Linked DNA regions of Homo sapiens: all the other regions are reported to be linked to region 3. The links are microRNA targets in miRTarBase. Many come from high-throughput screens and were not tested one by one. Region 3 holds a microRNA gene; each other region holds the end of a gene's coding sequence.

Region 1 (4,323 bases), not on the chromosome of region 3:
CGGTTCCTGCTTTGTACTCTGATGCCTATGACATATTCCAAATCATAGAACTGTACAATCTTCCTGATGAGAATGAGATATCCAGCTCTTCTTTCCACTGTCTGTATCAGTATCTCTCACCCACAAAGTACCAGGTAGGAGGACAGGGTTCCTCTCTCAGCATCTTTGCTGGTCCAGCTGTAGGCCTATCTCCTGCACAAACCTGGCCCAATATGACAAGCCAAGCCTTTGAAGCCTACAGTCTAACAGATAGCCTGGAATTCCAGAAAACCTCCAATATGGTAGACTTGGGATTTCTCTGACCAGAGTACTAATAAATATAGATCATTTAGAAAAGTGGTCTTCTTGCCTCTTGTACATGACTGTTTTTTTCCTTTGTCTCATTTTAACCCAACATCTGGGTCTGTGTCTCTGATTTCCATGTAAATGTTGCAAAAAGAGTTTTCCAAGTAGAGCTGGGCACTACGTAATCAGCCCCACAAGTCTCCCTGAGAAGCCTGCCTAGTCCCTTTCATGGCCAATGAGACTCCAAAATTCCCTTCCCAAAACTATCTTGGATTTTCTAAAAGTAGGACAGTGGTTTTGGGGGTTATCCACTTTTATTTTTTTGAAACTAGCTCTCATTCTGTCACCCAGGCTGGAATACAGTGGTACAGTCACGGCTCACAAAAGCCTTGACCTCCTGGGCTCAGGTGATCCTCCCACCTCAGCCTCCTGAGTAGCTAGGACTACAGATGCTCGCCACCACACCTGGCTAATTTTTTTTTTTTGAGACTGAGTCTCGCACTGTCACCCAGGGTGGAGTGCAGTGGCGGGATCTCAGCTCAGTGCAACCTCCACCTCCTGGGGTTCAAGTGATTCTCCTGTGTCAGCCTCCTGAGTAGCTGGGATTACAGGCGTGTGCCACCATGCCTGGCTAACTTTTGTATTTTTAGTAGAGACGGGGTTTCACCACGTTGCCCAGGCTGGTCTTGAACTCCTGACCTCCAGTGATCCGCCTGCCTTGACCTCCCAAAGTGCTGGGATTACAGACATGAGCCACCGAGCCTGGCCAATTTTTGTGTTTTTTGTAGAGACGAGGTTTTGCCATGTTGCCCAGGCTGGTCTCCAACTCCTGGACTTAACGCCATCCACCTGCCACAGCCTCCCAAAGTGCTAGGAATACAGGAGTGCACCATCGCACCCGGCTGGGTTATCTAGTTTAAAAACACTTTTTTTCAAGGAAACCGAAGAAACCATCATCCACTTTTCTCTCTGTATCATTCTGATTTTAGTATATGTGTTGTGGAAGTGAGTACACTATCATCCACTTTTAATGACAGAAAGTTATAAACTTACATTTTGTTTCCAATTTTTCATTTTTTGTTTGTTATTTGTTTTTTGTAGACAGCACTCTGTCACCCAGGCTGGAGTGCAGTGGCACCATCTTGGCTCACTGCAGCCTCTGCCTCCTGGGCTCAAACAGTCCTCCCACCTCAGCCTTCTGAGTAGCTGAGACTACAGACATGCGCCACCATGTCTGGCTAATTTTTGTATTTTTAGTGGAGATGGGGTTTCGCCTTGTTGCCCAGGCTGAATTTGGGTTTTTTTAAAATGAGACTTTCAGTCCTAATTTGAGGGGAAATTACTGTCACCACTAGTTTTAATATAGTACAATGAAAAAATAATATATATATATATAGTACAATGGTCCAGACATAATAAGAGGTGTAAAAACTATCACAGGAAGAAATAAAAACAGATTTTTGAAGGTGAGATGATAAACTTGCAAAACTCACAAAATAAAGAGTCAAACTTTTAGAATGACAAGTTAGCATATTTTCCAGCCACATGATCAACCTACAAAATTAATACCATTTCTGAACACCAGTAATAAAGAAACATAAGGGCTGGGGGTGGTGGCTCATGCCTGTAATCCCAGCACTTTGGGAGGCCGAGGCGGGCGGATCACGAGGTCAGGAGATTGAGACCAGCCTGACTAACATGGTGAAATCCCGTCTCTACTAAAAATACAAAAAAAAAAAAAAAAAAAAGCCAGGCATGGTGGCACACACCTGTAATCCCAGCTACTCGGGAGGCTGAGGAAGGAGAATTGCTTGAACCTGGGAGGTGGAGGTTGCAGTGAGCTGAGGTCGCACCACTGCACTCCAGCCTGGACAACAGAGCAAGACTCTGTCTCAAAAAAAAAATAAAAAATAAAAAATAAAAAATAAAAGAAACATAAGATAAGTACCTCTCAATGAAAAATGTAAAAGTACCTAGAAATTCACAAAAAAATTAATACCTCTGTGGAGAAAACTTCAAAACTTAAAAAAGGACATAGAAAATGTTTTGAATAGGCCAGGCGCAGTGGCTCACACCTGTAATCCCAGCACGTTGGGAGGCCAAGGCGGGCAGATCACGAGGTCAAGAGATCAAGACCATCCTGGCCAACATGGTGAAATCCTGCCTCTACTAAAAATACAAAAAAAAAAAAAAATTAGCTGGGCATGGTGGCACACACCTGTAGTCCCAGCTACTTGGGAGGCTGAGGCAGGAGAATCACAAGGATTGAAACTATGCAGTGTGTTCTCCAAACATGATGGAACGAAATTAGAAATCAATAAAATTTGGGAAATTCACAAATATGTGGATATTAAACAACACATTCCTAAATAACCAGTGGTTAAAGAGGTAATCACAGTCTGAGCAACATGGCAAAACCCTGTGTCTACAAAAAATAAAAAATTAGCTGGGCATGACGGCCAGAGCCCATGGTCCCAGCTACTCGAGAGGCTGAGGTAAGAGCATCCCTTGAGCCACAGAGGTCGAGGCTGCAGTGAGCTGTGACTGTGCCACTGCACTCCAGCTTGAGCAACACAGTGATACTGTCTCAATAAATAAATAAATAGAAGAAATCATGAGTAAAATTGGAAAACACTTTTAACTGAAAAAAACAAAAGCACAACAAACCAAAACATGGGATGAAGCTAAATCAATGCTTAGAAGGAAATTTATAGCTTCAAATACTTATATACATATTTTTTAAAAGTAGCTTTACATAGGAAGGAAGTGGCATAGTTTTATCAATATCTGTCAAATTAAACTTCAAGGCAAAACTTTTTTATTGAGATGGAGTCTTGCTCTGTCACCCAGGCCGTGCAATCTCGGCTCACTGCAACCTCCGCCTCCTGGGTCAAATGATTCTCCTGCTTTAGCCTCCCAAGTAGCTGGGACTACAGGTGTACGCCACCACACCCAGCTAATTTTTGTATTTTTAGTAGGGACAGGTTTTGCCATGTTGCCCAGGCTGGCCTCAAACTCCTGAGCTCAAGTGATCCTCCCGTCTCAGCCTCCCAAAGGGCTGAGATTACAGGTGTGAGCTACCTCACCTGGCCAAAACAGTTTTTTTAGAAATGAAGTATATTAGACAACAACAAAAGGAACAACTAACCTGAAATATATAATAACTTTGAACTTAAATATACTTAACAACATATACCAAAAATATATGAGGCAAATTTTAGCAAAAATTAAAATTCTTAAGAAAACTTCACTAATATATAGTCATAATGTGGTATATTCATAGAACATTCTCAATAATTGATAATAACAGTCCAAAGAAAGCAGAAAGAAGGAAAGCCTAGAACAGAAATAAATGAAATAGAGAATAGAAAAGCAATACAGAAAAAAAATTATGAAATCAAAAGCTGGTTCTTTGAAAAGATCTACAAAATGGCAAACATTTAGCTAGATTGACCACCCCCTCAAAAGACTCAAATTACTAGAATCAGAAACAAAAGTCAAGATTTTATTACCAAACTTATAGAAATAAAAATTATTAGAAAGAAATACTATGAACAATTGAATGCCAACAAATTAGATAAATGAAATGGACAAATTCCTAGGAAGACACAGAATACCAAATCTGACTCCACAAGAAATAGATGTTGTGAATAGAGCTTGCTATGGTATGAATGTGTCCCCCACAGCTCATGCGTTGGAAACTTAATCCCCAAAGCAACAGCTTTGAGAGGTGAGACCTTTAAGGGTTACTAGGCAGAGCCCCCATGAATGGATTAATGCCATTATTGTGGGAGTGGGTTAGTTATCTCAGAAGTGGGTTCCTGATAAAAGGATGAGTTCGGCCTTCTTCTTCCCCAAAATCTTTATCCCCACCCCCACCTCTATCTTTCTCTCTCTCTCTTACCTCCTCCTCTCCCTTCCTTCTGCCATGGGAGGATGAAACATGAAGGCCCTGGCCAGGTGTGGCCCCTCCATCTTCCGTCTGAGACTGGAAGACTTCCCAGCCTTCAGAACTGTAAGAAATAAATCTCTCTTCAT
Region 2 (4,000 bases), not on the chromosome of region 3:
GAGCTTCAGGTGGGCCTCAGGTATTTTGAGACATAAGAGACTCCATACTGGAGAAAAACCATTCAAATGTGAAGAGTGTGGGAAGAGGTTTACTGAGAATTCAAAACTTCGTTTCCATCAAAGAATTCACACTGGAGAAAAGCCTTACAAATGTGAGGAGTGTGGAAAGGGATTCAGATGGGCCTCAACTCATCTAACCCATCAAAGACTCCACAGCAGAGAAAAACTATTCCAATGTGAGGATTGTGGGAAGAGCAGTGAGCACAGTTCATGCCTTCAAGACCAACAAAGCGACCACAGTGGAGAAAAAACATCCAAATGTGAGGACTGTGGGAAGCGCTACGAGAGGCGCTTGAATCTAGATATGATTTTATCATTATTTTTAAATGATATATAATTATTGTCCATATTTATGGGTTACAGCATATTTCAATACATGTATACAATGTATAATGATCAAATCAGTGTTATTAGCATATCCATCACCTCCTTTATCATTTATTTGTGGATCATTTATCATTTCTTTGTGCTTTGAACGTTCAAAAACTGCTGTTCTAGTTATTTGAAAATAAGTTATTATTAATTATAGTCACCTTTAGTGCTGTGGAACACTAGAACTTGTTCCTTTCATCATCTTACTGTACTTTCATATCTGTTAACGAATCTTTCATCATCCACCCTCTCTCCTACTTTTCCCTTCTAGTAATTGCTATGCCATGCTGCTTCTGCTTTTTTTTTTTTTTTTTTTTTTTTTTGAGAACAGAGTCTTCCAGGCTTGAGTGTAGTGGCATGATCCTTTCTCACTGCAGCCTCCACCTCCTGGGTTCAAGCGATTCTCCTGCCTAAACCTCCTGAGTAGCAGGGATTACAGGCACGCACCACCACGCCCAGCTAATTTTTGTACTTTTTTTTTTTTTTTTTTGAGACAGAGTATCGCTCTGTCGCCCAGTATGGAGTGCAATGGCTTGATCTCGGCTCACTGCAACCTCTGCCTCCTGGGTTCAAACGATTCTTCCCTGCCTTGGCCTCCCGAGTAGCTGGGACTACAGGCGCCCGCCACCACACCTGACTAATTGTTGTATGCGTAGTAGAGATGGGGTTTTGCCATATTGGCCAACCTGGACTTGAACTCCTGACTTCAGATGATCCGCCCACCTCGGCCTCCCAAAGTGCTGGGATTACAGGCGTGAGCCACCATGCCCACCATGCCTAAAAATTTTTGTATTTTTAGTGAAGATGGGGTTTCACCACATTGGCCAGGCTAGCCTTGAACTCCCAAACTCAAATGGTCCACCTGCCTTGGCCTCCCAAAGTGCTGGGATTACAGGCATGAGCCACCGTGCCCAGCCAATGCTATGCTGCTTCTATGATGTCAACTTTTTAGCTTCCACATATGTGTGAAAACATGTGGTATTTATCTTTCTGGGCCTGAATTTACATCACTCAACATCATGTTCTCCAAAGCTTATCTTTATCTTGCCATAAATGACAGAATTTTATTATTTTTTATGGTTAAATAGTGTACCTTTGTGTATGTATGCCACATTTTCTTTACCATTTTCTGTTGATGAACACTTAGATTGGTTCCATATGTTAGCTATTGCAAATAGTACTATAATAAATATAGGAGTGCAGATAGGAGTTCAACACACTGATTTCCTTTCCTTTGGATATACAGCTAGTAGTGGGATTGCTGGATCACTTGAATGCTGATATGCATAAGAGGATCTACACTGGAGAAAAACCATGGAAGTGTGGAGATTGTGGTACATGCTTCAGTCAGGGCTCACATCTTCAAATTCAGTGTCTGTTCTGTAGAGAAACCTTAATAATGTGATATATGTGACAGCAAAGAGTTATAAGATATGAATATGTTAATTTTAGTAGATACTTCCGAAAAGTATTTCAAACTGGTTGTACCACTATAAACTCTGACCATTATTAGGCAAGAATTGGCTTTTTTTTTTTTTTTCTTTTGAGACAGTCTTGCTCTGTCACCCAGACTGGCATGCAGTGGAATGATCACGGCTCCCTGCAGCCTTGACCTCCCAGGCTCAAGAAATCCTTCTGCCTCAGCCCCTCAAAAGCTGGGACTATAGGCATGCAACAACACGCCTGGCTAAATTTTTGTTGTAGAGATGGGGTCTCACTATGTTGCCCAAATTGGTCTCAAACTCCTGGGCTCAAGCGATTCTCCCTCCTCAGCCTTCCAAAGTGCTGGGATTACAGGCCTGAGCCATGCGCACAGCATTTTGTTTTGTTTTGTTTTGTTTTTGAGATGGGGTCTCTCGGTGTTGCCCAGGCTGGATTGCTTATTCACAGATGCAGTTACAGTGCCCTATAGCCTCGAACTCCTGGGCCTAAGTGATCCTCTTGCTTCAATCCCCTGAGAAGCTGGGACTACAGGCATGGACCACCACCCCTGATTGATCTTCTTTAGTTTCTATAACAAAATAGTACACTGTTTCCACAAACTTGGGAAGGCTAGTATTTGGGGGTGGGGGGCGTGGAAATCACTAAACAACAAAGAAAATCTGATGAATTGGACAGCATAAAAATATTGGCATAAAGATGAACATAACATAAGCAGGAATATTTAAAGCACATACTTTTTATAGAGTGTCTCCCCTGTAATGTCTCTGGTTAAATGAAAGGGTTTCAAATGTGAAGACAACCCTAACCATACTCATTATCTGTAAAAGATGTAGCATTGTCATGGACTCCTTAATAAACGTGAAGACTTTAATCCATCTGAAGGTGCATCACATTTCTGAAGTTTCCAACACTGACAAGGTGATGGGCTTATGGATGAAAACTCATGAATGGGAAAAACTCAGCTATCGTTAAAGCCCATATATTTTATTAAAGATATTGGGGCTGTCTCCTAAATCTAGTTAGTGATGAATTTCAAGTCTAGAGCCATCACCGAATCCTTGTCCACATTCATTACACATAGGTTTTCTGAGAAAATTGTCTGCTGGTTATGAGAGGTCTTCTCCCGTGCCAAAGTGAGTATAATAACCTTGCTTTTGGCCAGGTGCGGTGGCTCACACCTGTAATCCCAGCGCTTTGGGAGGCCGAGGTGGGCAGAGTGCCTGAGGTCAGGAGTTTGAGACTAGTCTGGCCAACATGGTGAAAACCCATCACTATTAAAAATACAAAACAATTAGCTGGGTGTGGTGGTGGCGTGTGCCTGTAATCCCAGCTACTCAGGAGGCTGAGGCAAGGGAATTGCTTGAACCAGGGAGGTGGAGGTTGCGGTGAGCCGAGATCACGCCACTGCACTCCAGCCTGAGTGACAGAGTGAGACTCCATCTCAAAAAAATAAAAATAAAAATAAAAGTAAACAAGCTTGCTTTCTTTTATGTGCTCCTTGATTTTGATGGTGATGTGAAATCAAACTGAAGCTGAAAATACAATAATCACATTTATACAGGGCATTTTTCAAGGAAATTTATTGATTTTTACTTTAATAATTTAGTGCCTCACTTTTGTAAGTCTCTTGTAAGTGGCCAGGCATGGTGGCTCACACCTGTAATTCCAGCACTTTGGGAGGCTGAGGCAGAAGGATCAATTGAATCTAAGAGTTTGAGACCAGCTTTTTACAGAGTGTCTCCCCTATAATGTCTCTGGTTAAATGAAAGATTTTCAACTGTGAAGACAACCCTAACCATACTCATATTCTAGTTCCTTTGCCTTTCCATATAAATTTTAGAATAATTTTATATCTACAAAATATCTTGCTGGAATTTTGATAGTAATTATTTTAACCCTGTGTATCAATTTGGGGAGAATGAACATTTTTGCTATATTGAGTCCCACGATCCTCAAACATGGAATGTGTCTCCATTCATTTAATATTGTTGGATTTTCTTCATCAGTGTGTTGTAATTTTCATCTTACAACCCTTGTACATCTTTTGTCAAACTTCCATCTAGGTATGAACTTTGATTTCCGTGTGTTCATTGCTAGTATAATATATATAAATTAATTTTGGTAT
Region 3 (4,356 bases):
AGTGAGACTCTGTCTCCAAAAAATGAAAGTATACAAAGGACAGTTGTTTTACCCAGAAAGGAAGAAATAAGAAAGTCAATTATTAGAAATTTGTTTAACTGGCATGTGTTGAGTTCCTATACCTTATTAGATACATTTGAACATTCTTTCATTAAGTTCTTAAAAAATATGAATTAGGTATTATTTTCATCTCCCATCTTACAGATAAGGAAACTAAGATTTAGAGAGTATAGGTCACTTGCCCAAGGTCACGGACTACTGGGAAGCAGGGACATGAATTGAATCAAACTCTTTTCAAATCTAAATTCAGTGCACTTAATTTCTGTGTCATGCCATCACACTTTCTCTCCATGAAAGCTAATTTCTCTTTTAACATTAGGTTTTATAGGTAGTTCTACTAATTATGTTTGTGAAGTTTTGTTTTCTTTTCCCTTCACAAGGGCTGGACACAGATCAGCATTCTCATGTTATGAATGATTTAGCTTCGGATTACTCTTCTGCAAATGGAGGGAGGAGGCAAACCTCAAATTAAAGGCAGGGTTGGAATATAAAAGTCTCAGCTCCTCAAGAGTCCAGAAAAACCTCCTCCCAAGAGTGCTGTGGCCTCTTGGCGCCTCTCCAGGCCCAGCCTGCCTGCAGGACTTGCTTGCTCCATCTTGCCGGTTCTCAACGGAGAACTCTTTGTTTTGGACCCTGTTCTTGTATTCTGCTCAGTGGACTTGAAAATTGGAAGTTTCCTTGCTTCCTGGTCCTTCCTGTGCCTGGGAAACAGACTTGGAATTCTTCTTTTCTTCTCTTCATTCAGCAAAAAGACAACCCCACCAGTTACCATTCCTTGTATTAGTTCTTGGAACCCAGCCTGGGCCAACAGTTAGGCCCCCTGAGAAAAGAAGCCTAACTTCATTTGCCTAGTCCTTCCCTCAATAGATTAAGAAATGAAGAGAAAAAAACCTTCTTAACATATACTACATAATACTAATATTTACTTTAAAAAAAAAATAAAGGCTTAACCCCTGCATTTTCATCACTTGAGAAAATTGATATAAGCTAATATTTTCAATAATTTAAAGAAAATAAACCATTTCTTTCCTGCTCCCCTCCCCTTCTGAATATTCGGCATAAATAGTTGCTTGGGTAGAATAAATTCTCACTATTCATTGGTTTGAATGCTTGTGTATATCCCAAGGGTATACACAATGACCTCTACACACATGACCTCTGTTTTACATAGTCAACTTTTATTTTGCTGAGGCAGAAATAATGCATGCAGCAAAGACTGCCAGCTGTTTACCAAAATCCCTTCTCCTCTTCTTCCTGAGCACACAGCTAGACTATACTTCCCAGTCTCCATTGCAATTCTGTGTGGCCACATACTAGAGCTCTTGCACTGCTGTGTTTTTGCATCCCCTTCTACCTTCTGGCTTCCTGAGATGGAGCAGACTATATGCAGTGGACCAGGATGGCAAGGGCTCTACTGTCCTTTCAGGAGAGCCCTTGCCATCCTGGTCCACTGCATATAGCCGAGCTCCCACTGACCTGGAACCCTCATCCTGGACTGTTGTCCAAAAGAGAGATAGATGTGTTTTTCCCTCAAACATGAGAAGCTGAATTTGGCGGTCTATTTGTTACGATATCATAGCCTGTCCTAACTGAAACAGGGCACATGTAGTATGTAGCACAAGTTTCTTAGCTAGTGAGAGTGCTTAGCAGAAGCTCAGTGCCTGCCCTTCACCAAGATTTGAGGTTTCCTACTCATGGAGTGTCATCAGTAACTCTTGCCAAGTGATAAATCTTTTGAATATTGGTGGAATATGATAACACAAAGTAAACTAACCCCTAAATGTTGGTAGCAAAAGTAAAATACAATTGAGTGTGTCTTAGAGGGCAAAGGTTCTTGGCTAAAAGGTGGTTGTTTTCTAGAGTTTAACAATAAAATACCAAACTCATATTAGAAATAGGAATAATTTTACCATATGCTCCACATATAGAAAGAATAAAAAACTCAATTCTGGAACTGTTTCACCAAATGCTTCAACCAGAATTTTAAAAATAAATATATAAATAACTATGGTCCTGAATTTATAATATTAATGATATGTAGGAATAATTTACATTTTTTGATTTAACTCACAACATTTCAGGTAGAAAATTATATGGTATATATATGGAAATTTAATGATTTACACACACCCACACTTACATATATACCGACATACAAAGTTATCACCTTATGATATATTCCTTCTAAATATTATTTGTTTGATCCAAACTCTAGGATGAATTTACCTTCTTAATTCTCTAAAACTATGATATTAGACCACATATTTTTGCATCTTAAATTGTAAAATTTCAGAACATAGAGAAAAGAAGAAAAGAGATATAAATGATATTTATTCAAGACTATTGAACTCATGTGGAAAAATAGTCCCCCGAGGACGTCAGGTCCTAATCCTTAGAATCTGTAAATACTACCTGATACAGAAAAAAGGTTTCTGTCTGTAGGAACCTAAGAAAAGACATTTTTAAATTAAAAACAATTAAAACATTAAAAATTTAAGGTCTTTATAGGTATGATTAAGTTAAGGATATTGTGATGAAGAGGTTATCACAGCTTATTAGAATGGGCCCTAGATGCAGTCACGTATATCCTTATGAGAGAGAGGCAGAGGGAGAGCTGACAACGAGGAGAAGGCAATGTGATCAGGGAGGCAGATGGGAGTGATGCAGCCACAAGCCAAGAAGTGCTGGCAGTCCCATGAGCAGGAAGAGGAAAGGCCAGATTCTCTCTTAGAGTTCCCAGAGGGAGCATGGCCTGGCTAACTCCTGGATGTAGGCCTAGTGAAACTGATTTTGGAGTTTTGTCCCCTAGAACTGTGAGAGGATAAGTTTATGTGGTTTTAAGCCATTGAGTTTGTGGTGATTTGTTATAGCAGCCACAGGAAACTAATCCAATTCCATTTTCTAACAGCTGAGTTCAACTTTGCTAAGTTTATATCTGTGATATTTTATCCTAAGTCTTTGGGGACCTAAGTTTGTTTTCCTTTTCCTTGGCCTGGAAAAGACAAATGTCCCACCCATTGTATTACATGTTGTTGAATGTCTTTAGTGAGCTCAAGAGAGGGAACATCTCTCTTCTCCAGCTGAGTCTGAGTCATTGAAAAACAGAGTAAGATAGATAGAGAGGAAATTATCAATTTTATCATTGTTAAAGTTGATTTTGGAGGATCGCCTTACTATCACTGAATCTCAGATTTAGAGAGACTTACCTACCTTATTTCCAACATTAGACAATGTACTCTAAAATGTAGGGTCTGAAATAGCAGAGCAGAAAGTATGCTTTCTCTATGCACATAGCTCTCAAGAGAATGAGGAGGTAAAGGGACTCAATAACATTAAATGATTCCCTCTTCTCCTGAGAACAGAGATGTCAGGACTGCTGTGCTAGTGGAAATCTTTTTATATGGAAAGAAGTGCTGGGAGTGGAGATGAAACATTTCCTATGGTTCCATCTCCTTATGGGCCAAGATTGACAGCTATCTGTGGGCAGAAACAGTGACACTCTAGGCTTTACAAGCCGAGTGGAAGACAACTTAAACCATAGATAGATAGTAAAGTCCTAGCTGCTCTCAGCTTAAATGTGAATTTTGGACTTGGGACAGTGTTTAAGATCCTAAATGAGTCTGCTGAAGTCTAGTTAAGTCCTGAATATCCCCCGATTCACACATGGACCTTTGTTTGTTAGCATATTCCACCCACCTCTTCTTTTAATCTGTTAAAGGAGACTTCTGCTTTATACAATCAGGTAATAAAATCTGTCTTTATAAATATACTTGTTAGTATGCATTTAGAAATCTAAGTCCTCACTCTTTTATAGACAGGCACTAATAGGTTACCTACTTTTTTCACCAAATGATTCTTACTTGAAAATTAAAAGAACATTGCATTTAGTGTTAAAAGCCTGTAACCTCAACATGAGGTCTCAATAACCCAGCTGCTATCTATTTATCTTGGTAGATTCATTTATTCTCTCTTTCCTAAGGTTATTTTAACAATGTTGTGTTATTTGTAATAAAAGTTGCTTTTGTTTCCACACTGGGCCAGAATGGATTGAGTAATAACATTAACAAATACCTTGAGCTCACATCCGCACCTTTCACCCTGAATTGTTTTCCAATGCTAACTCATTGTCTCCTCAACATTCCAGTGGCTCAGTGACAGGGGGTATTATTCCCATATTTCAGAGAGAAAAAGGAAAGCATGAAAAAGTCAGAGCACACCTGTATCTAGAAATCAGAGCCTTTGATAATGCTATTCTACTTTTTTTTCCTAAGGGCATACATTGTGTTAAGTATCTCT

Evidence for each region. Region 3 holds the annotated microRNA hsa-miR-4776-5p (GUGGACCAGGAUGGCAAGGGCU, at 1,450-1,471, shown strand). A microRNA usually pairs through its seed, bases 2 to 8, with sites in the 3' UTR of a target mRNA and lowers its output. Matches are read on the target gene's strand: a 7mer-m8 pairs with bases 2 to 8, a 7mer-A1 pairs with bases 2 to 7 and ends in A, and an 8mer does both.
Region 1: the mRNA of ARGFX is a reported target of hsa-miR-4776-5p. Seed matches in the 3' UTR shown: 7mer-m8 at 1,688-1,694.
Region 2: miRTarBase lists ZNF284 as a target of hsa-miR-4776-5p. Seed matches in the 3' UTR shown: 7mer-m8 at 1,287-1,293.

Annotation. Positions count from the first base shown.
Region 1 is chr3:121,586,299-121,590,621 of GRCh38, forward strand. It overlaps ARGFX (arginine-fifty homeobox), which reads left to right. Exons shown (of 5, transcript NM_001012659.2): 5 at 1-4,323. The coding sequence ends at 302. Among named protein-coding and RNA genes, the nearest start is that of FBXO40, 4.9 kb to the right of the region's middle.
Region 2 is chr19:44,086,864-44,090,863 of GRCh38, forward strand. It overlaps ZNF284 (zinc finger protein 284), which reads left to right. Exons shown (of 5, transcript NM_001037813.4): 5 at 1-2,750. The coding sequence ends at 397. Among named protein-coding and RNA genes, the nearest start is that of ZNF224, 5.5 kb to the right of the region's middle.
Region 3 is chr2:212,923,421-212,927,776 of GRCh38, reverse strand. It overlaps MIR4776-2 (microRNA 4776-2), which reads left to right and starts at 1,441; the gene lies at 1,441-1,520. It overlaps MIR4776-1 (microRNA 4776-1), which reads right to left and starts at 1,520; the gene lies at 1,441-1,520.